7 linked regions of the Homo sapiens genome follow. The protein of the gene in region 3 interacts with the protein of the main gene of each other region in a pairwise test. Each region holds a gene or a part of one and is shown on either strand. Other genes may lie near its edges.

What was found.
Region 1: the proteins of MYG1 (region 3) and DCAF10 interact in binary tests that used the Homo sapiens proteins (3 or more experiments, as listed by UniProt).
Region 2: the proteins of MYG1 (region 3) and CDS2 interact in binary tests that used the Homo sapiens proteins (3 or more experiments, as listed by UniProt).
Region 4: the proteins of MYG1 (region 3) and BSND interact in binary tests that used the Homo sapiens proteins (3 or more experiments, as listed by UniProt).
Region 5: the proteins of MYG1 (region 3) and AP1B1 interact in binary tests that used the Homo sapiens proteins (3 or more experiments, as listed by UniProt).
Region 6: the proteins of MYG1 (region 3) and SFT2D1 interact in binary tests that used the Homo sapiens proteins (3 or more experiments, as listed by UniProt).
Region 7: the proteins of MYG1 (region 3) and RXRB interact in binary tests that used the Homo sapiens proteins (3 or more experiments, as listed by UniProt).

The regions. Positions count from the first base shown.
Region 1 is NC_000009.12:37,856,297-37,859,796, reverse strand, and holds part of DCAF10 (DDB1- and CUL4-associated factor 10), read right to left. Parts: intron 2,557-3,500; coding exon 2,446-2,556; intron 1-2,445. UniProt on the Homo sapiens protein: May function as a substrate receptor for CUL4-DDB1 E3 ubiquitin-protein ligase complex.
Region 2 is NC_000020.11:5,172,008-5,175,507, reverse strand, and holds part of CDS2 (phosphatidate cytidylyltransferase 2), read right to left. Parts: intron 1,986-3,500; coding exon 1,849-1,985; intron 326-1,848; coding exon 229-325; intron 1-228. UniProt on the Homo sapiens protein: Catalyzes the conversion of phosphatidic acid (PA) to CDP-diacylglycerol (CDP-DAG), an essential intermediate in the synthesis of phosphatidylglycerol, cardiolipin and phosphatidylinositol.
Region 3 is NC_000012.12:53,302,695-53,305,185, reverse strand, and holds part of MYG1 (MYG1 exonuclease precursor), read right to left. Parts: intron 2,153-2,491; coding exon 1,993-2,152; intron 1-1,992. UniProt on the Homo sapiens protein: 3'-5' RNA exonuclease which cleaves in situ on specific transcripts in both nucleus and mitochondrion. Involved in regulating spatially segregated organellar RNA processing, acts as a coordinator of nucleo-mitochondrial crosstalk.
Region 4 is NC_000001.11:55,008,933-55,012,432, forward strand, and holds part of BSND (barttin), read left to right. Parts: 3' UTR 1-3,500.
Region 5 is NC_000022.11:29,336,571-29,340,070, reverse strand, and holds part of AP1B1 (AP-1 complex subunit beta-1), read left to right. Parts: intron 1-296; coding exon 297-317; intron 318-937; coding exon 938-1,081; intron 1,082-3,500. UniProt on the Homo sapiens protein: Subunit of clathrin-associated adaptor protein complex 1 that plays a role in protein sorting in the late-Golgi/trans-Golgi network (TGN) and/or endosomes.
Region 6 is NC_000006.12:166,339,746-166,343,705, reverse strand, and holds the start of SFT2D1 (vesicle transport protein SFT2A), read left to right. Parts: upstream 1-1,160; 5' UTR 1,161-1,224; coding exon 1,225-1,287; intron 1,288-3,960. UniProt on the Homo sapiens protein: May be involved in fusion of retrograde transport vesicles derived from an endocytic compartment with the Golgi complex.
Region 7 is NC_000006.12:33,193,088-33,195,376, reverse strand, and holds the end of RXRB (retinoic acid receptor RXR-beta), read left to right. Parts: coding exon 1-14; intron 15-326; coding exon 327-432; intron 433-547; coding exon 548-695; 3' UTR 696-1,789; downstream 1,790-2,289. UniProt on the Homo sapiens protein: Receptor for retinoic acid. Retinoic acid receptors bind as heterodimers to their target response elements in response to their ligands, all-trans or 9-cis retinoic acid, and regulate gene expression in various biological processes.

The sequences.
Region 1 (3,500 bases), on a different chromosome or scaffold from region 3:
AAGGCTAAGGCATAGAAGCTGACTAGGGGTTCTTTTATTTGGATCTTACATCTCAGAAAGCTCTTTATTTAAGTAAGAACCAAAGTTATGTGACATGAAAGGACTCTAGAAAGGTAAAAGGTAACAATTCTCCTCTCATTGGTCCTGGTGCTTTCTGGTCCAGAGAAGGAAATACTTGGAAGCCATGAGGATTGCCTTTTAAGCAAATAAAAAGATCAGGACTTAAGCACCTGCAATAACAACACTATAAACAAAAAATAAAATGTTGGAGGTAAGAAAGGACACCTCACATAAAGGCATGTCAAAACAAGGGATGGGAGACATTGCCAATCATAGACTCTACTATGCCTCATCATTTCCTTCTACCTAACTCCCAATGAAAATGACTGCTGGAGTAAGGCACTGTTAATAATAGGAATATGTTATATCCTTCAGGTGCGTGAAAAACCACTTTCATAGACACTGTAAGGAAGCAACTTAGAAATTTAATAGCAAGAGAAATATTTCAACACTTCTCTGACTGTGGAAGGAGTTATTTTGAAGGTATTGAGCTCCCTCTGTCAGATCCTTTGTGAATTGCTTGTCAAGCAGATGTGTTACCTTCTTTCTAAAGATTCCCTTCAGATTACTACATCATTAACAGAAACCTGTGAAGCTCTAAATTACACTGCTATAACAAAACTATACTGAAATAACTATTTCACATATGATTGAACTTTAACAATTTTAGAGAAAAATATACTCTTATTTTAAGAATTAATTTGGAAAACCTATAACAAAACCAGACAAGAAATGCATTCTAAGTAGGTGGTTTGCTAACTGTGCTCCTTTGGGGTTCCTCAGGAGATGGCAAAAGTGGGGAACCACGTGTGGGCTGAGGTGTAGATGGAGTGGGGAAGGCTGGAGGGTCAAGAGCCTCCCTAATTTTTCTTGAACCAGAGCTACTTTGATTTTATTTGTGCTACATCTCTAAGAATCCACAGCAGATTTCATGTCAAAAATAGAGTTCTAATGCTGAAATGCATTTGAAAGCCTCTGCTCTATACAGCTATTATATCTGCCAAAGGATAGTGTTAACATACTCTGACATCTGAAGATCCAGGATTTCCAACATTTAGAGCAACTTCACCTATAAGCCCCACCTTCTCCCATGTTTTCCCTCTCTTTTCACCCTCTCATTTTCCTCTTCTTCCCAGCCTCCTCATATATCATCTCTTCCCTCATTCTTAACTCTCTGTGGCATAGAACTGCTGTATATTTGTGTTTGTGTGTTTACCACTGGTCAATAACAAGCAAGCATGTTAACTATTCTTCTTAAATTAAGTTTCTTTTTCTTGTGGATGGTGTAGTCAATCAATAAAGATTTTTCTCAATGATTATTAGAAGCCTTGACTTGTTTCCCATAGCACAAGTGGAAGGAGAACAGGAAGAATCTGCAAAAGATGTTTGTGTTACAAATCAAAGGAAAAATGTTATACTTCTGGGCATAAATCTTTAAATTTAAGAGGAGGAGCCTTTAACCTTAAAGTGAAATATCACAGACTTCAATATCCAGAGGCAAGTGGATAGGCCATATAGGTTAGAAAGAGCTCTTAAACCATTCTACTGACATAAGTAGCCATGCAAGATAACCAGCATCTACTAGGCAAAGCCACCCAGTGAAAACACAAATTAGAAGTCTAAGATTTAGTCTCTGCCCAAAATAACAAGGTAGAGAAATGTCTATCTCCAAAAGTGACCCAAAATGACAAAAAAAAAAGCAAGCCATCTCTGGCTCTTAATACTCAGTTCACAAAGAGAAGAATAAACAATGAATGGTATAAGAGCTTAGACGTCAGTTAGTATGAAGAGGAACAGTATGTGGAATTTGTATAGGCAGAAACCATTTCAACTGGGGGGGTGTGGTGGAAGGTATAGGGCAGAGCAACTAGTTCTGCCAGAATGGCTAGGAAAAAACTGGGAAATACAGAGAGGAGCCAGATGGTAGCTCACTTTATCCTACAAACCCTTGGAAGCTGTCAGGCATTGCACAGACAAGGAAATGGCAGAGCAAAAAGTCTGAGGGTAACCAGGTGACTTTCACAATTACCTGAAAATTCATGACTTATATTTATACAGAGCTTTCACGTGCATAATCTCACTTAATTTTCACAACAATCTTGATTGAAATCTATATTTCTGAACTACTTCCTCTCCAAACTAGACCAAACTAAGTCCAGCTAATAAAACCAAAGCTCAAGTTCTATTAAGATTTAACTCAAGATATTCAACCCCAGGGACTCTCGGTTAGCTTTTTGAAGATGATGACTGAGGGATAAATCACCTCATCTCCATTGCTTTTATTTTTATGGATTAAAACCATAAAACTGGTTTTAATCAATCAATAATTAATCAGATTGGCATAATCTGTTGTTACAAGATTATAAAATCCAACTTTTAACCTACCTTCTCTTTGAGAGGCTCGTGACATGTGTTTCTCAGAAGAATTAGAATCACTATGATGACAAGGTGAGCCAGAAACTCTAGGACCAGATGAACTTGATGAAGTGGTCAAATCTTAAAAATATAAAAAATTCTGACAATAAACCTAGCATAACTCTGGTAGTGGCTCTTAACTTTTTAATTATCTACTCGAACCATAGTTTTAAAATTTTGAAAAAATGCTCATATATCACTGGCCTATAAGACTGAGGAAGGCAAGACAGCTCTTTGAAGTGTTCTAAGATCTAGTCCCTTTCTGAATCTTTTATATCAAAGACTTGACTATGTGAAATAAAAATGAAAAACCAAATAATCATAGGAGCGTCTTTGGATCCTCATGATTTCTGTACTAAAATGGAACCCAAAAATTCCATGAAAATGAAAACTAAGCTCTTAAGCCTATTGTTTTATGTTAAAATAGGGTCCAAACAACAGGCCCATTACCAGAAACATGAAGAGATTCTTCTTTAAAGTATACCAAAAACTTCCATTATCATTCTTGAAATTACGTGAATAGTCTTTTTTTTTGAGACAAGGATCTTGCTATGTTGCCCAGGCTGGACTCCTAATTCCTGGGTTCAAGTGATCCTCCTGCCTCAGCCTCAGCCTCCTGAGTAGCTGGGCCTAAAGGCATGCACCACTGTGCCAAGTTTATGTGAATACTGTGAAATGTGACATAAAGTTTACATTGAAAAAAATAAAATGAGTATCAGGTAGTGGAGTCTGATATATTACTCCAAATAGCAGTGTCTATTTCATCATCACATTTTGCTAGTGGTCCCATACCTATGTTAAGAATTCTTACTAGTCTAATTTCCTGTAATGTTATTTAGTATCAGAATTACCATTAGAAAACTGAAAACCTTGTTGGTTTTTGAGTTGAAATAGGCCAACTAGACATTCAAAATCACTATTTCTCACTAAGTTAGAGTTGCTTATCATGTTTAACTTAAAAGGCAAATTTGAATCTCAAAGGATTATACTCGTATATTTATGAAATCCCTTGTTTGCAAGTAAGT
Region 2 (3,500 bases), on a different chromosome or scaffold from region 3:
AAAGAAAAGACACTGAGACATCTTCAACCATAAACAACCAGCCTACACCAATGACCCTCCAGGTGGCTACTGAGAAGTGGGAAGTCACAGATGTTCTATGGCAGAGGTTTTCTGAGAAGCCTGGACCCCCGTCAATTCCCACAACCAACCCAACACCTCGCACTTAAGACAACCGGGCCTGCAGCAAAAACTGAAGGGAAAACTAAAATAGTGTGAAATGGCACTTACGATTATCATCAAAACCATTGGTCCCAGGTAAATGATGATGAAGAAAAATGCAATCATGGCCAAAGTCAGGATGCCTCTCACCCACCAGTTCTTCCATCTAGGTCAGAGAGCAGGGGAAGGAGAAAACACCAGTTAGGAGCCCAGAAAAAAACCAATGCACAAACTCAAGGGATATGGATCTTCCTGAGATGAGGGCCCTGAGCTCAGTCCTTTCCAGATTCACCGTGACGGAGGCACCAGCCACATGCTGGCAGGAGCAGGACCACTAGTACCAATGCCTAAGTCACAACCAAACTTGGCAAAAAATAAACCTAGCTTATATCTTAAAGAAGGTATCAGGCAAAACACAAACAAACAAAAAAACCAAGGGAAATGTAGTGCCCTCTGCTTCTGTATCCACTTGGATGGTTTCTACAGCTGACTATCTGAAGAAAAAAATATTTTTTTCCAGCAGCAGGATCCTACACTGCACTGCCCTGAATAATTATGGGAATAATAGTAACATTATGCAATGATAATAACAGCTACCATAAATATGCATAATTTTTTTTTTTTTTTTGAGACAGAGTTTCCTCTGTAGCCCAGGTTGGAGTGCAGTGGCACAATCTCAGCTCACTGCAAGCTCCGCCCAGGTTCATGCCATTCTCTTGCCTCAGCCTCCCGAGTAGCTGGGACTACAGGCGCCTGCCACCACACCCAGCTAATTTTTTTGTATTTTTAGTAGAGACGGGGTTTCACCATGGTCTCGATCTCCTGACCTCCTGATCCACCCGCCTCGGCCTCCCAAAGTGCTGGAATTACAGGCGTGAGCCACCATACCCGGCCTGAGTAAGGTAATTTTATGAGGACTTTACATATATTAACTCCTTCAATCCTCAACACACTTCGCTTTTACAGATGAGGAAATGGAGGCACAGGTCAAACAGCTGGCAAACAGTAAAGCTGGGATCTGAATCCAAGGGTCTGGCTGCAAAGTCCACGCCCTTAACCACTGCACAATTCAGACTCCCAAGGGGACAGTTGGAGGCACACATAGGAACACTGAGATAATGCTTTGGGGTCTTATAATGTGTTTTTGATCTACTCACATAGCTGTGTTAAAAGAACCAGGTTCTCAAGGGCCAAAAGTTTTAACACTAGATTCACCTAGGTTAAGATGTTTCCCAGTTCTTCCTGGAGAATTTAAGGAACTGTTCACAAAGGATGTGAGAGAAACTAAACTCTGAACTGGAAACGTGGACTCCTCAGTGAAAAGCAGCCTGCCCATTAATCGCAAACCCAAGGCTGGTTTCCTGTGCTGTGCAGTGTCAGCTGACCTCACCCACCTCCATCCCTCCTGTCCCCTCTTCCTCTTTGAACTGCACTTCCTAGTCCAGTCTGAAGCACCCTTCCGGGGCCAGATCCTTCCAGCCTTGGTTGCCCTCCCCTCCTGGTCACTGTGCTCACTGCCACTGCTAAGCACTAGATTACACTCAATGGAGCCTGGAGCAGTGGCATGGGAGGCTGAGGCAAGACAGCGGGCCTGCTCTGCAAGACCACGGGCTCTCTGCAGGCTCTTCCAGGGCACTTGGACATGGTGCAAAGCCCCCAACAAGCACCTGCATCATTAAGCCAGGTTACCTTGAAGACAAGTTGGAAAGGGCCCTATTGAGGACCTCCGGGGTATCATCTGCAGAGACTGGCAGGGGTGCGGATTCTGCCCGGCTCTCACTGTCCGATGCAGTCTCTCCATCTACCTTTGCTTCTGACTCTGACTCCTAAGTGGCAGAAATACAGAAGAGAAAAAGGTCAAAAGTGCCGAGTAGACCATTGAGAAGTCTATGCCTGTCATGAGAGATCTGTGGGGAAAGACTCCAAACAGGGCCTAAGAACCTGGCACAGTCAGGTGATGGGACTGACAGGACTAGCAGCAATCCTGACACTGTTGTGACATGTGCCAAGGTGGCCAGCCACACTCTGCTGGAAGAGAGGTGTGCATCTGCACCGCGTACCATCTGCTTAACCGCAGAGGGCAGATCCAAAAGAGAGAGAACATGGCTCCTTTGTATCCAAAGAATGCAAAAGGGAGGCTGGGACCGGTTTTAACAGGAGGTTATCCCTGAGCCTGCTAGGGCAGCCAATGGCACTGACCAGGCTCTCTCAGGGGAAGCCAGGTGGTGAGGCTGTTGCCCCTGTAGACCTGTTAATGTCAACATGTCCCAAGTCCAGAGTGTTATTTCCGGACTTCACTAGAGCACTCTGTGAGGAGGTCAATCACAGTCAGTGTGGACAACGAACCAGACAGCCTACTCCAGACAACGCTCGAGCCAGGACTGGTGCACCTCAGTCCTTTCCCTGCCACCAGGCCCTGGGTGACAAAAGACCCACAGGAAGTCACCCTGCTCCCAGCCTGGGTGAGGGAACCAGAGCCATGCCAGCAGCAAGCTCTTTACCCAAAGTATCAAGGGACAGGCTATTCTGAATCCTAGGAACCATCCTACCACTCAAGTATTTTCTTTCATAGGGGAATTCAGAATAGTTGCTATGAGAAGAGGTGGAGGAGAAAGTAAATCACTTAGAGTAACAACACTACTTAGTATCTGTATAGCCCTGCAAGGTCTGAAGAGCCTTTCCCATGCAAGCTTCAGAGCAGTACTGGGAGGAAGGGAAGGGACAGGAGAAGCCCCATTTACAAATAAGAAACGGGATCTGGGAAGTTCAATGCGTGGCCCAATGTCTCATATTAACCCAGGTCCTCTGACTTCCCTGATGACTGATGAATACACGGAATTGTGACTGTCTCACATGTTCACTGGCCACTTGGTATCTTCTGTCAAGTGTCTGTCAAATCACTGGCTAGTTTTTCTACGGAGTTTTCTGCCTTCCTTTTTTTATTGATTTGTAGTGGTTTATGTGCTCCAGATTTGAGTACTTTGTGTTACTAATATGTTCTCTCAGACTGCTCTAACCCCCACCTTCACCTCAGGCGAGGTTAGACACCCCAGTGATTTGCTCTCTTAACACTAGAACCTTCTCCCTCTCAGCGCTGACCACAACGGGGACTTTTGTAAATGTCTCCTTGGCTGACGACAAACTCCTTAAAGACAAGAACATAACTTCTTGTTCTCATTATCCCCATGCACGGCACACAGCAAAACACTTACTAATGGATGGAAGAAGAGAAGAATTAGGTCCAGGTGTGTAAAGAAAAACCCAGCCCCTGCCCTCAGGGAGACAGCTCTTTCTAAATTAATTTACAACTGTGACAAGACAGAGGGCCTTAACTAGTGCAG
Region 3 (2,491 bases):
AGTTAAAACATGGGTTTAGGCCGGGCGCGGTGGCTCACGCCTGTAATCCCAGCACTTTGGGAGGCCGAGGCGGGCGGATCACGAGGTCAGGAGATCGAGACCATCCCGGCTAAAACGGTGAAACCCCGTCTCTACTAAAAATACAAAAAATTAGCCGGGCGTAGTGGCGGGCGCCTGTAGTCCCAGCTACTTGGGAGGCTGAGGCAGGACAATGGCGTGAACCTGGGAGGCGCAGCTTGCAGTGAGCCGAGATCCCGCCACTGCACTCCAGCCTGGGCGACAGAGCGAGACTCCGTCTCAAAAAAAAAAAAAAAAAAAAAAAAACATGGGTTTAGGCTGAGGTGGGAGGATCACTTGAGCCCAGGAGTTTTTGAGTCCAGCCTGGGCAGCATAGCAAGACCCTCTCTACAAAAAAATTAAGATATATAATTAGCCAGGCATGGTGGCATGCACCTGTAGTCTCAGCTACTTGGGGGGCTGAGGTGGGAAGACTGCTTGAGCCCAGGAGTTCAAAGCAGCAGCAAGCCATGATGGCACCACTGGACTCCAACCTGGGCAACAGTCTCTCAAAAAAAAATACGGGTTAAATTTAGTCAATTGTTGCTGGGATTAGTGGCTCACGCCTGTAATCCCAGCACTTTGGGAGGCCAAGGTGGGTGCGTTACTTGAGGTCAGGAGTTTGAGACCAGCCTGGCTAACACGGTGAAACCCCGTTTCTACTAAAAATAAAAAATTAGCCAGGCGTGGTGGCAGGCGCCTGTAATCTCACCTACTTGGGAGGCTGAGGCAGGAGAATCGCTTGAACCCAGGAGGCGGAGGTAGCAGTGAGCTGAGATTGTGCCACTGCACTCCAGCCTGGATGACAGAGCAAGACCCCGTCTCAAAAAAACAAAAAAAAACAACAACAAAAATTTAGTCAGTTGTTTAGAAACCCTTCAGCAGTGGAAGGGAAAACTGACCCAGGCAGTCTAAAATCTTGATATTCCAAAAACTCTATAGTTACAGAGGGCAGAAAATGGGCAAGCTAAAACTGAGAACTGATGGGCCGGGTGCAGTGGCTCAGACCTGTAATCCCAGCACTTTGGGAGGCTGAGGTGGGCAGATCACGAGGTCAGGAGATCAAGACCATCCTGGCTAACACGGTGAAACCCCACCTCTACTAAAAATACAAAAAATTAGCCGGGCATGGTGATGGGCGCCTGTAGTCCCAGCTACTCGGGAGGCTGAGGCAGGAGAATGGCGTGAACCCGGGAGGCGGAGCTTGCAGTGAGCCAAGATTGCGCCACTGCACTCCAGCCTGGGCGACAGAGCAAGACTCCATCTCAAAACAAAAAACAACAAAAAAACTGAGAACTGAATTCAACAGCCTACCTGCAAGAAATACAGCTGACTGAACCTGGGCTTTGACTTGTAAACAAGTAAGTGTCCTCAGTACTGTGCGACCTGACTTGCATGCCAGGGCCACTAGCCATATTCTTTCCCTAAGAGCAGGAAGCTGCTTGCAGGGGACACTGGTGGAATCCAAAGACAGTTTCATAATAAAACTCTTCTCAGCTGAGCTTCCCAATTTATGTGCCACTAGTGAACTACAGTGGTGCCTAACATACACTCCCCTCAACCTTCAGGGCAGCCAGAACCTCTGAGCCATCTGCTTCCACACATAAGCAGCCTCCCCTCTGTTTACCCAAAGGTGCTGAGCAATTGCTGTTTGTGTGTGTCAATAAAAAGACGGGGCCATGCTGCTTTATGGTTTTCAAAGCCCTTCCCCATATATTACAGCATCCACTTCTCACAACCACCCCAGGATGTAGACAGGGGAGGTATCACCATTCCCTTGTGAGATGAGCCTGACTGAGGGAGAGGATGAGTGTTGGGCCTGCTATAGGCCAGGAACCCTGACCCGAGGCCCAGTGCTGAGTGCTGTGTGAGCACTGCTCCCAGGCGGCCTGCTGGAAATGCATGTGGGGGGCATCTCTGTCCTCAGGTCCCCACCTTGTCATAGAGGGTGCCCACCATGCTGTCCTCTTCACTAGTGCCCAGCAACTGGGCCAGCAGCTTGTGCCCGAAGTGCAGATAGATGAGTCCCGCACTGCTCAGCTTGGTCTGCCACGGCTTCCCAGGGGACAGGGAGCTCATGGTCTCTGTGAAAGACCTGAGGAGCATAGGGAGGTGGGGCTGAGGTGAGGGACCTTGGCTAGAGTCTCCATGCATTCATTCAATGGTTAACTCAATGCTTCCTATCTGCCACATTTTATGTTTTATTAGACATTAAGGATAAAAAACCAAGACACTGTCCTTGCTTTCAGATTCATCTGCCGGAGGCCGACAAACACAACCCCCTGAGTACTCTCACTAGACGAGACAAGGGAAAGGAAGGAAGGGATGAGGAAAGGGTTCAGAGGAGAGCCTTCAGGTCAGTTCTGAAAGATGAATTAGTGGGTGTCCACCAGATAGACAAGGGGTGAAAGAGAAAAAGCATTCCAAGCAGAGA
Region 4 (3,500 bases), on a different chromosome or scaffold from region 3:
CTTCCTTGGTGCTCCCTCTGGGCCCCTGATCCTTTGTGAAGGCCAGTCAGGTTTCCCATTCCTATTGTGTCTTATAGTCCACTTGGTAGATGGCGTGATCCGTCTTTACACAGAGGGAGCCTCATCTCCTCCTGGGCCACATTCCTCCTGCAGCTCCCATCGCTCCTTGGCCAGGACCCAAAACCTTCTGTGACTGACCCCTGCTGACCTCATTCTCTCTGCTCCTCCAGTTCCAAGCCTAGCCCCCCTGCCCATCTTGCGGCTCACACTCTTGCCCAAGCTGTTCTCCTCCACCAGGATGCCCTTGGCTCCCTTTTCAGCTTGGCAAATTCGTGCTCACCCTTCAAACCCCTACACAGATGACCTCCCTTGGAAAGGTTTTCCTGATGTCGCTGCCTCCTGGAACCAGGTGGTCTTGCCTCTCTGCGCTGCCTTTGGGACCTGTATATTTGTCAGTGTGGCATGGCTGCCTGCCTCCCGTTGAAGGGCAGCATCTTGACTTTACTCACCTTGAGATCGCCTGTGCCCAGATGGGCCTTTGGCCTGGCCCAGAATCGGTGGTCATCAAGGGTGTACAGAACTCACCAGGACCCAGGAACCTGTTGCAGATAAAATCACTCTCCCCCACGTTCCCAACTTTTAGACTCACAGCCCTCTTACTTCCCAGCATTCAAACTTCTAAATGGCCTGTATGTATTCACAAAGCAGGCAAAAAGCCCCCAGAGGAACACCACCCCCCACCCCTGCCTCTGGAATACATTTGCTTTGACTTGGAATTGTAGGTGAAATTCATCTTCCTGGCCTACTTCAGTTTGAATCAGTTGGCTAGCCAGGTGCGGTGGCTCATGCCTGTAATCTGAGCATTTTGGGAGGCTAAAGTGGGTGGATCACTTGAGGCCAGGAGTTGGAGAGCAGCCTGGGCAACATAGCGAAACCCTATCTCTACTAAAACTACAAAAATTAGCTGGGCGTGGTGGTGCACACCTGTAGTCTCAGCTACTTGGGAGGCTGAGCTGGAGGATAGCTTAAGCACAGGAGATGGAAGTTGCAGTGAGCCGAGATCGCACCACTGCACTCCGGCCTGGGTGACAGAGTGAGACCCTGCCTCAAAACAAAACAATTGGAATTGGATGGCATTTAGTGAGCATCTACTATATGCCAGATATTGAGCTGTGATCTCTAGGGGTAAAGAGACATGAACTACTGACACCGTGCTTGCCTTCAGAGGGCTCACAATCTAGTGAGCTTGATTTCTGTGAGTGCAGAGCAGAAGCTGAGGTGGGAACAGAGAAGTAAAAAATGGACACACCAGAGGCAGAAGAGTGACAGCCTCCCAGCTGTTTGGGGCAGTTGAGTATGGTGGGGAAATAGCTCAAGCTGTCTTTGCAGCCCCTGAAGACATCACTGTACCCTATTGAACCATCTCAGGGTGATGCTATTGTTACGCTGATCCCTGCAACGCTTGCCTGTGCCCCAGCCCAGGATCCTGGCAGCTGCAGAGAAAATGGCAGTAACACTACCTCAAACCAGGACCACGCCCTCAGAGCCTGCACCCTGGGCCACCTGGGAGTCAGAGACCTTCACCTGGGCTATGGGGTTCTGGGTTGAGGCTGGGGTTCCCGGCCTAGGGAAGGGCTTCCGGGTTGAGGCCGGGGGTCCTGGCCTAGGGAAGGAGATGCCCCTGTGTGCTGGGTTACAAGGTCATGGCCCTGGGAACACACTTCCTTTTCTTTCTGGGTCATTTCTGCCTCTGCAGTGAAGGATGCCACAGGGTACACCCTCTCTGCTGTCATGACTCAGGACAGGAGTTCCTGGTCACAGCTGAGTCTTCGGATGAGGTGAGGGGTAGCATGCTCCTGTGCTCTGTTGCCTAAGGCAGGGCAGCCTACAACCCACGTTAGAAACAGCGTCAGCACTAAGGGCTAAAATAAAACTACTTTCAACATTTAAAGGGGTCATCTTCATTCACCTGCAAATTCTTTTCTTTAAAACCACCCCTTCCCTCGGGGCAGGATACGTGAGGCCTTACGCCTGACGGGCACCAGAGGCCCTCTTCCGGAAGTAAGCCCTCACTGCAGTGGCATGACCGTGGGGTGTGCTGTGTGGTGCTGAATCTCAGGAGTGATTCCCCACACCCCTGAACCACAACCGCAGTGGCTTTAGACTTAAACAAGAGCCTCTGGTTGCTGGGCCTGCCAGCAGGAAGATGGTAACCCTGTTCTAGAGTTAGCATCTGCAGGGGGCTTGGGGTAGTGGAGTGAGATGGTGAGACCCAGGCTTGGTCTCCCTGGCTCTTGCTGCATGATGGGGAGACCACACACCTGATCTGCCCAGGAAGGTCCCGGTTGACACCGACTGCCTCTGCTAAGTTATTAGGAGGCCCCTTTCACGCTCGAAGATACCTCATTTGGATGATACAATGTTACCTTACCTACTCTGTGACCTTTGACAAGTCTGGTTGCCTCCGTAGCCCTCAGCTTTCTCATGTGCAAATGACAGATGAAGTGCGCATATCTTGGAATCTTGGAAGTGATGGGGGTGTTTGATGGGACCTATCTTGTCAATGCCCTGCAGCCAAAGACCACTGGGAGCACACCTCACCTGTGGTTAACAAGCTGGGTTTCTTCTTGCAGTAAGGGGGAATGAACACCACAGCGAACCAGGGGGAGTCTCTGAAAGAGGTATTAGAAAGGACTTGTTACTGGATTTGGGCCAGTGCTCAGTGGCTTGGCGAGGGTTTAAGAAGCAGGCCTTTGCTCTGAACCGGCTGCTGTCAGGAGGCGGGGCTCATTCTATGACTGGGTGTCTTCTTCAACCTTATCTAGGATAAAATAAAATCATAAAACACTGTGCTTCATGCCCCTGGCCTTGCCAACTTGCAGTCCCCTCTAAGAGCATCAGAGCCTCTGGGGCACCCCCTCTCCACTGGGAGAGGGGCAAGGTGCTGGTGAAGGTCCTGGGGAGAAGGCTGGGAGGCTCTGAAAGGGTCAGGAGGGGCCTTTTGGGGTGGCAAAGCCTGGGATTCTAGCGTTCAGCTCCAGGCTCCAGGTGTGTGTGCCAGGGTGAAAATTCCTGCTCTTGGTCACTCTCCTGTCAGGTTGGAGGGACTCTGGAAGTTTCCACCCTCTGGAGAGGGAAAGGCCCTGGAGGGATGGCCCCTGCCCTTAACTGGAAAGGGTGGGCAAGGGAAGGCAGGGGGCCCAGGGGCAGGGAACCTGGGCTCTGCCGACCGCTCGCCATGACCTTGGGTACATCACAGCCCTCCCTGGGCTCCTCTATTCTCTGTAAAATTGGGTGAGGGTGGGCAAGATTCCACTTCTGCTCCCAGTCCCTGAGCACTGTGTGCCTGTCACCATGCAAGACACCGTCACCCCTATTACCCTATCTAGTCCGTGAAACAGCCCTGGGGGACCGATCTGTCGACCCCACATTGCAAATGTTTGTTATAAATCCCAGGCTCCAGAATCAGAAAGACCTGGTTTTACCTTCAGCCTCAGCCA
Region 5 (3,500 bases), on a different chromosome or scaffold from region 3:
TCAGGTCCGCACGGTGGCAGCACGGGGGCAGGACACTGGTGATCAGTGCTGCTAGGGTGAGGCAGGAAGGGCTGTGGTGCAGGACAGGTGTTGGGGTAAAGGTGTGGGGTAGTGCCTTTCATAGAGACAGGGTCTGGGCCTCTCGCCAGACCTCACACCACACTCCTCTCGGATGGAGCTACCGTTGACTAATCTCCCTCTTTCCCTTCTCTCTCTTGTTTCTCTGTCTTCCTTCCTGGCTTTTTCTCTCTGCATGTGGCTGCCTGTTCTCTTCACCTGCCTGCTTCTGCTTGGAGATGGGGGATGAGCCTGAAGGGGTATGGTTCAACCCTTGCGTCACCAAGCCTTCGTCCTTGCTCCTCCCGAAAGCGCTGGCCCAGCATCCCAAGGGGCGGGGGCGGGTGATGTCACAGCAGCCTCCACCTGCTGAGCCCCTGCCTTGGTCCAGCATCCTGGCAGCCTCTGTCTTGACCACCTGGCATCCGGCTGCCACTGGGCCCCATAGCCATGGATTCTTGCCCAGTCCTCACCACCCCATGACACGTCGCCTTGTCATCGCGGGGATTGCCAGCCCTCAGTCCCACAACCCTTCTCTGATGTCCTGGAGGGAGAGCACCCATCTGCGTAGCATGTCTCCACCCAGCCGTGTGTCTTGGGACCTCCTTTTATCCATAGGCTGAGCGTCAATTTGGGAGTGTCCCCAGCCCTTTCCCAGAGGTTACTCCTAAGGCTCAAGGCTTGCAGGGCACGGGAGGGCTCAGCCTCTCTTCTCCACCCACCTCTCTCTGTCTTGTTTCTGTAATTTAGAGTTGATATGGAGGCTGTCCTGCCCCCTGCCCCCAGTGTCTTCTAAAGAGCCAGGTGGCTCTACTCATTCCCAGACCCTGATGTCTTTGCCTCTTGACGCCCACCTCTGACTCTTTCCCTCCCTTTCCAGATTGGGGGCACCAACTTCGTGGCACCTCCAACAGCAGCAGTACCAGCCAATCTTGGAGCACCCATCGGCAGTGGCCTGAGTGACCTCTTTGACCTGACCAGTGGCGTGGGCACCCTGTCAGGATCATATGTGGCCCCCAAAGCAGTAAGTCACTTGTCTTCTGTCTTGGCGGGAGCAGAGAGAAGTTATGGAGACTGGCATGTGGGCTCCTTTAAATGGCCTCGGCTGTGGAATTGGCTCAGGCCAGCAGTGATGAGGGAAGCTGGGGGCCACAGGGGCACCGAGGAAGAGGAGCTAAGTCAAGCTTGGTGGGTACCTAGGAAGGCTTTCCAGAGGAGTCGCAGGACCTCAGTAGCTGAACAAAAGCGGATAGGGGCTCCAGACCAAGGGAACAGTCTGTGGTAAGGCCTGGAGGGAAGGGAGACCACGGCCTTTGTGAGGGAATCAGCAGAGGCCTGTCAGGTGGGAGCAGTAGTTCTCAGTGCCATCAGACTCAGCACCCCTTAGTCATCATAGACATTTTACATTGTCACCATTCCTCTCCTTAAATGCAATTGGTGGGCTGTGTAACCTACCTACACATAGCATTCCAAAAATACTCAGATGCTTTCACTGCATGGAGGAGACATAAAAGGGAGAGAATACAAGTGTATGTATCAATGTTATAAACGTCTGGGCACGCCTGCCCGCTCACCCCAGAAGACATGAAGTTGCCAGGTGTTTGCTGCAGGGCAAAGTCACTGTGACTGTGGCAACCACAGTCTGGGTGTTTGTAGCCTGGACCCCGTGAATGGTTTGGCCAGTGGTGCCATTTGTTTCTGAAGTGGTCACTGACTCCCAGTAAGGTTTGGAGTAAGATAAAGAACAGGCTTCCCTCGATTTTCCTGAGAATTGTGTTCCTGGAAGTCTCAGGATATGTTGAAACCATGCAGAAAATACTGGAAGGATGCAGGACAGTTGCTTGTTGTGGGGTGGTTGTCCCCATGGTAGGATGTCCAGCATCCCTGACTCCAGCCCACTACATGTTATGCCACCTGAAGATGCCCACAGATGCCCACTATGCCACCTAGGGCACACCCCCAAGACTCCTGGCTAGACTAGGGATCAGTGAAGGAGGAAGCTGGCAAGGCTGGCGGGCCAGGCTGAGCGTTTCTTCTTGATCCTGGCACAGCCGGAGCCATTGGAAAGTTTTAAGCAAAGAGATGAACCAGTCTGATTTGCACTTGAGAAAGATGGCTGCGTCTGCAGGGAAGGGGTGGGGCAGAAGCACCGGCCCCGGGGGATTCCGTGGCAGGGAGGAGGAGTGCTGGGGCAGCTGGACCACGGGGGCTCTTGTGGGTGGAAACAGCGGCCAGACTTGAGAGCTCCCTGGGAGGGAGGAGCCGGGGCTGAGGGAAGGAGAGTTGAGTTTGGGATGTGAGGACATGCGGGCCTGGCACTGAGGAGAGCTCAGTGTGGGCCATGTTGTCAGTGTCAAGGAAGCTGCCAGAGGGGACCAACCAGGCCTGATCCCCTCATCACACTCAGATCAGAAGTTGTGTTTGCCAGAGCTCCCCTCTCTCTTCTGAGGTCCCCACCCCAAAGCAGGATACAGTTGGCGGTCAGGGGCAGTGACAGCTCTGTCATGACTAGGGAGCCATGAGCCAGCACCTCCCCACCCCCTGAGCTGGCTTTCCCCACCATATGCCAGCTGCACCTGCAGTGGTGGTGACTGGAGCCCCTGGCAGGGTCTGGGCACTGAGAGGCCCACAGCAGACAGCAACTCGGACACTAGTAGCCGCACACTTCCTTGTAGGGACAGCACAGCATTCCACAGCCACCGCCAGCACGTCCTCCTCCCAGCAGCCCTTTGTGGCTCTTCCTCCTATTTCGTGGTTGAGAAATCCTAGTGCTTTTGCCTAAGGTCACATAGCTGGTGACAGAGTCTGGAAGTGAAAGCAAGTGACACTAAAGCCTCTGCTCCAGACCCCTATATGATGGTCCCCACAGAGCGTGAGAACCACCTGTGCACCTGCCTTCATGCGTGGGGTGTCAGGGCCAGCAGGGCCACGGGAACGTAGAATCGCGGCATAACGTACAGCATGTGCAGTTGACTTACTACCTGGATTAGCTGCACCAAGGCATGAGGCCAACTCGTACTCACCAGAAGCCCAATATCACAGGCATACAAAGCAGGACTAAGGGACAGAGAACAGCAAAGACTCCTGTAACCCTGTGGGTGCCAGCCCTTGCCAGGCACTGCAGAGCTGCCAGGAAAAATAAGCCTGGAGCTGGCCTTTGGCAAGCTGGCACTAGGCTTGTGTGTTCATCTTTTTTTTTTTTTTTTTTTGAGACAGAGTTTTGCTCTTGTCACACAGGCTGGAGTGCAATGGTGCGATCTCAGCTCACTGCAACCTGTGTCTCCGGGGTTCAAGCGATTCTTCTGCCTCAGCCTCCCGAAGTAGCTGGGATTACAGGCACCTGCCACCATGCCTAGCTAATTATTTGTATTTTTAGTAAAGACAGGATTTCACTATGTTGGCCAGGCTAGTCTTGAACTCGTGACCTCAGATGATCCACCTGC
Region 6 (3,960 bases), on a different chromosome or scaffold from region 3:
TCTTCTGCCTAAAGGAAAAGGATGCTGAGCATTGGACCGTTTCATCACAAGAAGGCGCGACTTGCTTTCCTAGGGTTCCTGTGGTATTTGTTTTTATCTAATTGAGTTTAGATAAAATCTCTACTGAGGCAGTAGGATGGACAATGAAACTTTTTGAGGATCCACCTTTTAACTGAAAGATTTTAGGGAGGAAATGGAGTGGGCAAAGTAATCAAAAGAACAGGCATTCTCATTACCATCTTACCAAGCCTAGAAGCAAACAGAAGAGCAAAACCTATCACTTAATGACTTCTGGAGACCATATTAGACAGGCAGCCCTGATTTTTAATCTCCTTTCTTAGCATGGTGGAAAATGAGAGAGAGAAAAATGCCACTTCCCCATTTCTTAGTGTTTGTTCATCCAGCACGAGCCGGAGAACAGTAAACGCTTGTTCAATGGTTTCACTGTTCACACAAAACTGGAAAAATGGGTTGCATTAGCTATTCCTTTTATAAATAAGATTTCACTCTTTCAAACTCCTAGCTGACCAGTGAACTGAGTAAAGAAATAGCTCTCACAAGGGCAAAGGAGTGAGGCAGCCTCTTGCTATTTCTCCTGAGACGGTCTGAAATACAGCTCCTCGCTTTAATCCTGAGGCAGGTGTTTGTGTCTCCGGATGAGGACACCCAGCTGGGAAGGCTAGCGACGCCCCCAGGGCCACCTCATGGGTGGCAGGGCGCTCTTCGGAGCACGGCCACCTGCCCGCAGGAGCCCTCCGCTCTCCGATTCCAGGCGAGGGGAGGCGCATTCGGGGCCTCGACTTCTGGGAACCCGGGGTGCCGCGGACCCGCCCAGCAAGGCCCCTCGCGGGGCCCGGAGGACGCCAAGTGCAGGGTTCAGTGGTCGTGCCCCAGTCGGGTCTACACTCAATGGCTGTGCGCCAGCTGTGGGCAGGGGGTCCACACCCGCGCTGTGTCCCCGCGCGTTACCACGGCGCACCTCGCGGACAGTGGGAAGGGATAGCCCCACCATCAGCGCCCACTCCGCGGACTTCACGGACCACTACCGGGTCCGAGAGAAAGGCTGGTGAGCATGCGCGCATTGCTACGGCGGCCGCGCTGACGCACAGGAAGCGGGCGGGACCGGACTTCCGGCTGGTCTGTGGGGTTTCGGGTTCGGGGTTTCCTGGTGGGCGTCAGGGGCAGGCAACAGAGTGGCGGCCGCTACGGCCCTGTAACAGGGCCATGGAGAAGCTGCGGCGAGTCCTGAGCGGCCAGGACGACGAGGAGCAGGGCCTGACTGCGCAGGTAGCGAACTTGCGCCCTCGTCCAGTCCCGGGGCTGCCCGCTGGCCCCGGCCGCACTGAGGACCGGCCGAGCGGGTGGGGTGGGTGCGAGGCCGGGGGTCTGGGACTCCTCTGCCCGGCTGGTTGATTTAGGAGGGCTCCGCCTGCTTCCTGGGTAGAATTTGAGAACTTTCCAGTTTTCCATGCGGTCTACTTAAACCCACTTTGAGGCCCCCCCCCGACTCTCCCATCTGGCCTTCTGACTTAGGAATCCGCTAACGTCTGCCCTCGCTTTCCCAAATAATCCATCGCTCCCACGTACTATTTGGTTTTCTGAGCCTGGTGCGGGGTCTGGCCTCGGGCTGTGCAGCGTAAGTAGCTATGCAGGGCATTTATCCTGCAAGCTGCAGTGAGCCGAGACCCTAAAGCTTGTTGCATCTGTTTGTCTTTGGAGGTAAAGGTGGTGTTATGTGTGTGTTTGCTGGGGGGTGGTCTTTTGGAAATAGGGAGACTGGAGGAAAAATAAACAGGACATTGGTAAGTGAAATAATATTGAATTAAAATTTTTCTGTTAAGGCAGTGAGCCCTGGTAAGAGATTTTTTTTTTTTTCTTAATAAAAGCCCTTGTGTCTGCGCCTTACCAGCGAGACTTGATAAGGGTTACTTCCTCCAGCAAGAAGGTTAAAAGTAGCAGTGGAGCAGGAACTGCGGTGTAAGTTTTTTTGTTATTGCATGCGATTATATTGCACGTTATTGTGTGCTGTCGCAGAAGTTGGACGTTTAAAATTGAATTGTATTTCATAAGGATCTTCTATTTGTCTCTCCTGACTTCCTTGTCATTATACTTACTCAGCACTTGGTGTGGGTAGAGTTCTGGGCTACAGTTTTGGGTTCAGAGAGTGTAAGACAAGTATCTGTTCTCATTGCACTCTGTAACTCTGTATATTACCACAGCCACATGTGGCCAATGAATTTTTTTTTTTTTTTTTTTTAGATGGAGTCTTGCTTTGTCGCTCAGGCCTGGAGTGCAGTGGCGTGATCTCGACTCGCTGCAACCTCTGCCTCCCGGGTTCAAGCAATTCTCCTGCCTCAGCCTCCTGAGTAGCTGGGATTACAGGCACCTGCCACCATGCCCTGCTAATTATTTTGTGTTTTTAGTAGAGATGGGGGTTTCACCATGTTGGTCAGGCTGGTCTCGAACTCCTGACCTCAAGTGATCCGCCCACCTTGACCTCCCAAAGTGCTTGGATGACAGGCTTGAGCCACTGCGCCTGGAGCAATTAAATTTAAATTAATTAAAATTAAATAAAATTTAACATTCAGTTCCTTAGTCACAGCAACCACATTTCACATGTTCAGTAGGCACATGTGGTTAAAGGCTACTGTATTAAACAGCGCAGATACAGAACATTTGCATTGCAGAAAGTTCTATTGGACAGTGCTACTCTAAACTTTGGAGATGCAAAGGTAATATCACTTATCTTGAGCCCACTGTCTAGAGGGGAGAAAGATATGTGGAGAAGTAATCAATCAAAGATTAGAGTGACTGGCTGTATAGACAAGTGCTGTGAGTTCAGAGGAGGTGATCGTTCATTAACAAATATTCAAGTTCCTGCATATGTTTGACATTGTTCAAGATGCAGGTGTTAATAACAGTGACCAGTGCAAATACCTCTTTCACATGGAACTTAAATTTTAATTGGAGGAAACAGTGAATAAACAAGTATATAATGTGTCAGACAGCCACAGAAAAAGTCAGAGCAGGTTGAGGAGGTTGGGGTTGCCATATTACTTAGATAAGGCCTCCCTGCCAGGGAGTCATGTGAGCACAGCTCAGAAGAGCTGCTGGGATGTCTGAGCATCCTGTGAATAAAAGCCTCCAAGGCAGATACAGAGTCCCAAGTGGTGTGTGGTCAGCATGTTCAGGGCCAGTAAGGAGGCCAGAGGGGCTCTAGCAGCGGGGCAGAGAAGAGGGACAATTGTAGAAGAAAAGGTGAAGCAGGAAGGGGGATTCTCAATTGTGAGGGTTCTCATAGGCCATAGAAAGGATTTTAGCTTTACTCTGAGTGTGATAGGAAGCCTTTGGGTTTAGAGCAGAGTGGTGGTGTGACCGACTTGGATTTTAAAGGATCACTCTGGCAGCTCTGTGGAGAACAAACTGTAGAGGCAATGTTAGAAGCCCAGAGACTGGGCTGGAGACAAGTACAGTTGTCCTGGCAAGAGATGACTGTGGCTCAAATCAGTGATAGAAGTGGTTTAAAGAGCAAAAAAGCCTGTTTAAAAAACAAAAAAGTGGTCAGATTCTGTAAATGGTCTGAGTGTACAGCCAGCAGGCCACACTGTTGACGGATTGGATGTGTGAGAGTGGGAGGAGGCAAGGATGCCTCATGGCATTCGACCTGAGCATCTGGAGAGGTGGAGTTGCCATTAAGTGACTGTGGGAGGAGCAGGTTCAGGGAGGAAAATCATTTCAGTGTGGACGTGAAGTCTGAGATCCAGGTAGCATCCAAGTGGAGATGTGAGGAAAGCAGTTGGACGTAACACTGTAGAGTTTGTGGGAGGAAATAGGAGAGAGATGAGATCGTCAAGATGAGGTCCAAGGTTTGACCTCTGGTTTTCTCTAGGTGTGTAGAAGTTTAGAGGATGAGCAGAAGCCGGCAAAGACAGCTGAGAGGCGTGGCGAGAGAAGGAGGAG
Region 7 (2,289 bases), on a different chromosome or scaffold from region 3:
TCTGTTTAATCCAGGTAAGAGGAGGATTACCTTTGTCTCTCAAGGCCAAGGCAACCTTGGAGCCTCCTCTTCTCCGAGACTCCTAAGTTACCCAGCTATCCCCCTCAGTAAGACCCTCAACCTGGAAATCTCCCAACTGGCCGAGGAAAAACCCACATCCACGGATCCATCCCACAAACCCAGTGGGCCCTGCTTCCCTTGCCAGGCCTCTGGTAAAGGGCAAGCAAGTGCAGCCCAAAAGGGGCATCCTGTGGCTCACATCTGCATGGCCATCCTGATTTGGTTTGTCTTCATTTCTCTTCCTCCTCTCTTCCCTGCCATCCCAGATGCCAAGGGCCTCTCCAACCCTAGTGAGGTGGAGGTCCTGCGGGAGAAAGTGTATGCATCACTGGAGACCTACTGCAAACAGAAGTACCCTGAGCAGCAGGGACGGTGAGATGGGGCTGGGGGGCACTGAGGCTCCCTTGGGGGTGGGGAGTGCTATGAGGATGTGTTCAGGGCCCGTGTGCTTCCAGCTCTCAATCCCCTTCTCCCACCTCCACCCCAGGTTTGCCAAGCTGCTGCTACGTCTTCCTGCCCTCCGGTCCATTGGCCTTAAGTGTCTAGAGCATCTGTTTTTCTTCAAGCTCATTGGTGACACCCCCATCGACACCTTCCTCATGGAGATGCTTGAGGCTCCCCATCAACTGGCCTGAGCTCAGACCCAGACGTGGTGCTTCTCACACTGGAGGAGCACACATCCAAGAGGGACTCCAAGCCCTGGGGCAGGGTGGGGGGCCATGTTCCCAGAACCTTGATGGGGTGAGAAGTACAGGGCAGAACCAAGAACATAAACCCTCCAAGGGATCTGCTTGATATCCCAAGTTGGAAGGGACCCCAGATACCTGTGAGGACTGGTTGTCTCTCTTCGGTGGCCTTGAGTCTCTGAATTTGTCGGGTTCTCCCATGATTTGGGGTGATTTCTCACCCTCTGTCCTTCCCCCAGCACAAAGCACTGGCCTTGCCTCCAGGACCTTGCTTCCTTCTCATCTTGCCTCATTTTGCTTCCCATCTGAAGAGTGGAAATGGGGAACTCCCCCAGAGGTGGATACTGGGGGGCAGGCCTCCCAAGCTGATGGACATGAGAGTAGGGCCCTGACAGGCCTTCCTCCTCTCAAACCTGGCAGATGGGGGCCTCTCTGGAAGAGGGAGGGGCCCTGTCACTGTCCAGAGTCTCTTTTTACACTTCACCTCCTTCTGCAGTCAGACTGAAATATAAAAAAGGTGGTGGTGGTGGTGAAGGGGCTGGTGGAGATGTAGGAACCGATCTGCTATTTTTAATTTCCTGTGAGGATAGAGACTTGCAGTTAGACTCAAAGAAGTACTGTACTTTCCCAGGTTGACTAAGAAATGCCAGTGGTGGAGGTGGGTGTTTGGGAAAGGCAGGGCCCTGAAATGGCCTGTCCCTAGGGCTCTCCAAGCACTAGCCTTCCCAGCTTCCCGCCGCCCCCCCTATCTCTTCCTGTCTAACTTGGGGAAGGGGCCTGGGCTGTGAGGACAGGGCCCCCACAGGGGATGGTTTCACGAGTGTAGTCCCGGAGGCCTTCCCTTTACAGCTCTCCTCCAGCCCTGGGCACATAGCATAGGCTGGGGACACAGGATCCTGGCCTGAGAATTGAGGGGAGGTGGCCAGCCCGCAGAGGTGGGGTGCTGGGGCTGCATGATTTTTGCCCTGCGTCCCTTCTCTTTGGGGCTCCTTTCCCCTCTCATACATAAAATCGCTTTCAAATTAAAATCGCTGTTTTCTGGACTGAGGTGACTGTATGAGGATGGGCAGCGCCGTTTCGGGCTTGGGGGGGGTATCCGGTTGGGAGCTCCGGACGCGATCCCTGGACGCCGCCGCCGAGGTTCCGTGGGGCCCAAGAGGTGCACGCAGGGTGGGGGACACAAGGCAAGCTTTGTCGGGGAGGGGGGGAGAGGGTGTGCCAGGCTGGGGGCGGGGCCGGCCGGAGGAGGAAGGGGGGGCGGTGGATTCTCAAAGGCGCCTTGTTCGCTCGTGCCCTCTCCGCGCCAGCGGGCGGCGGCGCCTCGGCTCGCTGCGGCCTTCCCTCCGGGCGCGCTGCGGGCTCCGGGCAGACCCGGCGCCGTGCCCGCTCGTGGGGGCGCACTGGGCGCCGAGCGCTGCGTGCTTCTCAGGCGTTGCCCGCCCGGAGGCGGCCCACGTCCCCGAGTGACCCCATTTCCCTGGACCCTTCCAACCAGAGTCGACTGCTCGCTCATCTTACCACTGCTCCCCCTCTACCTCGGCTC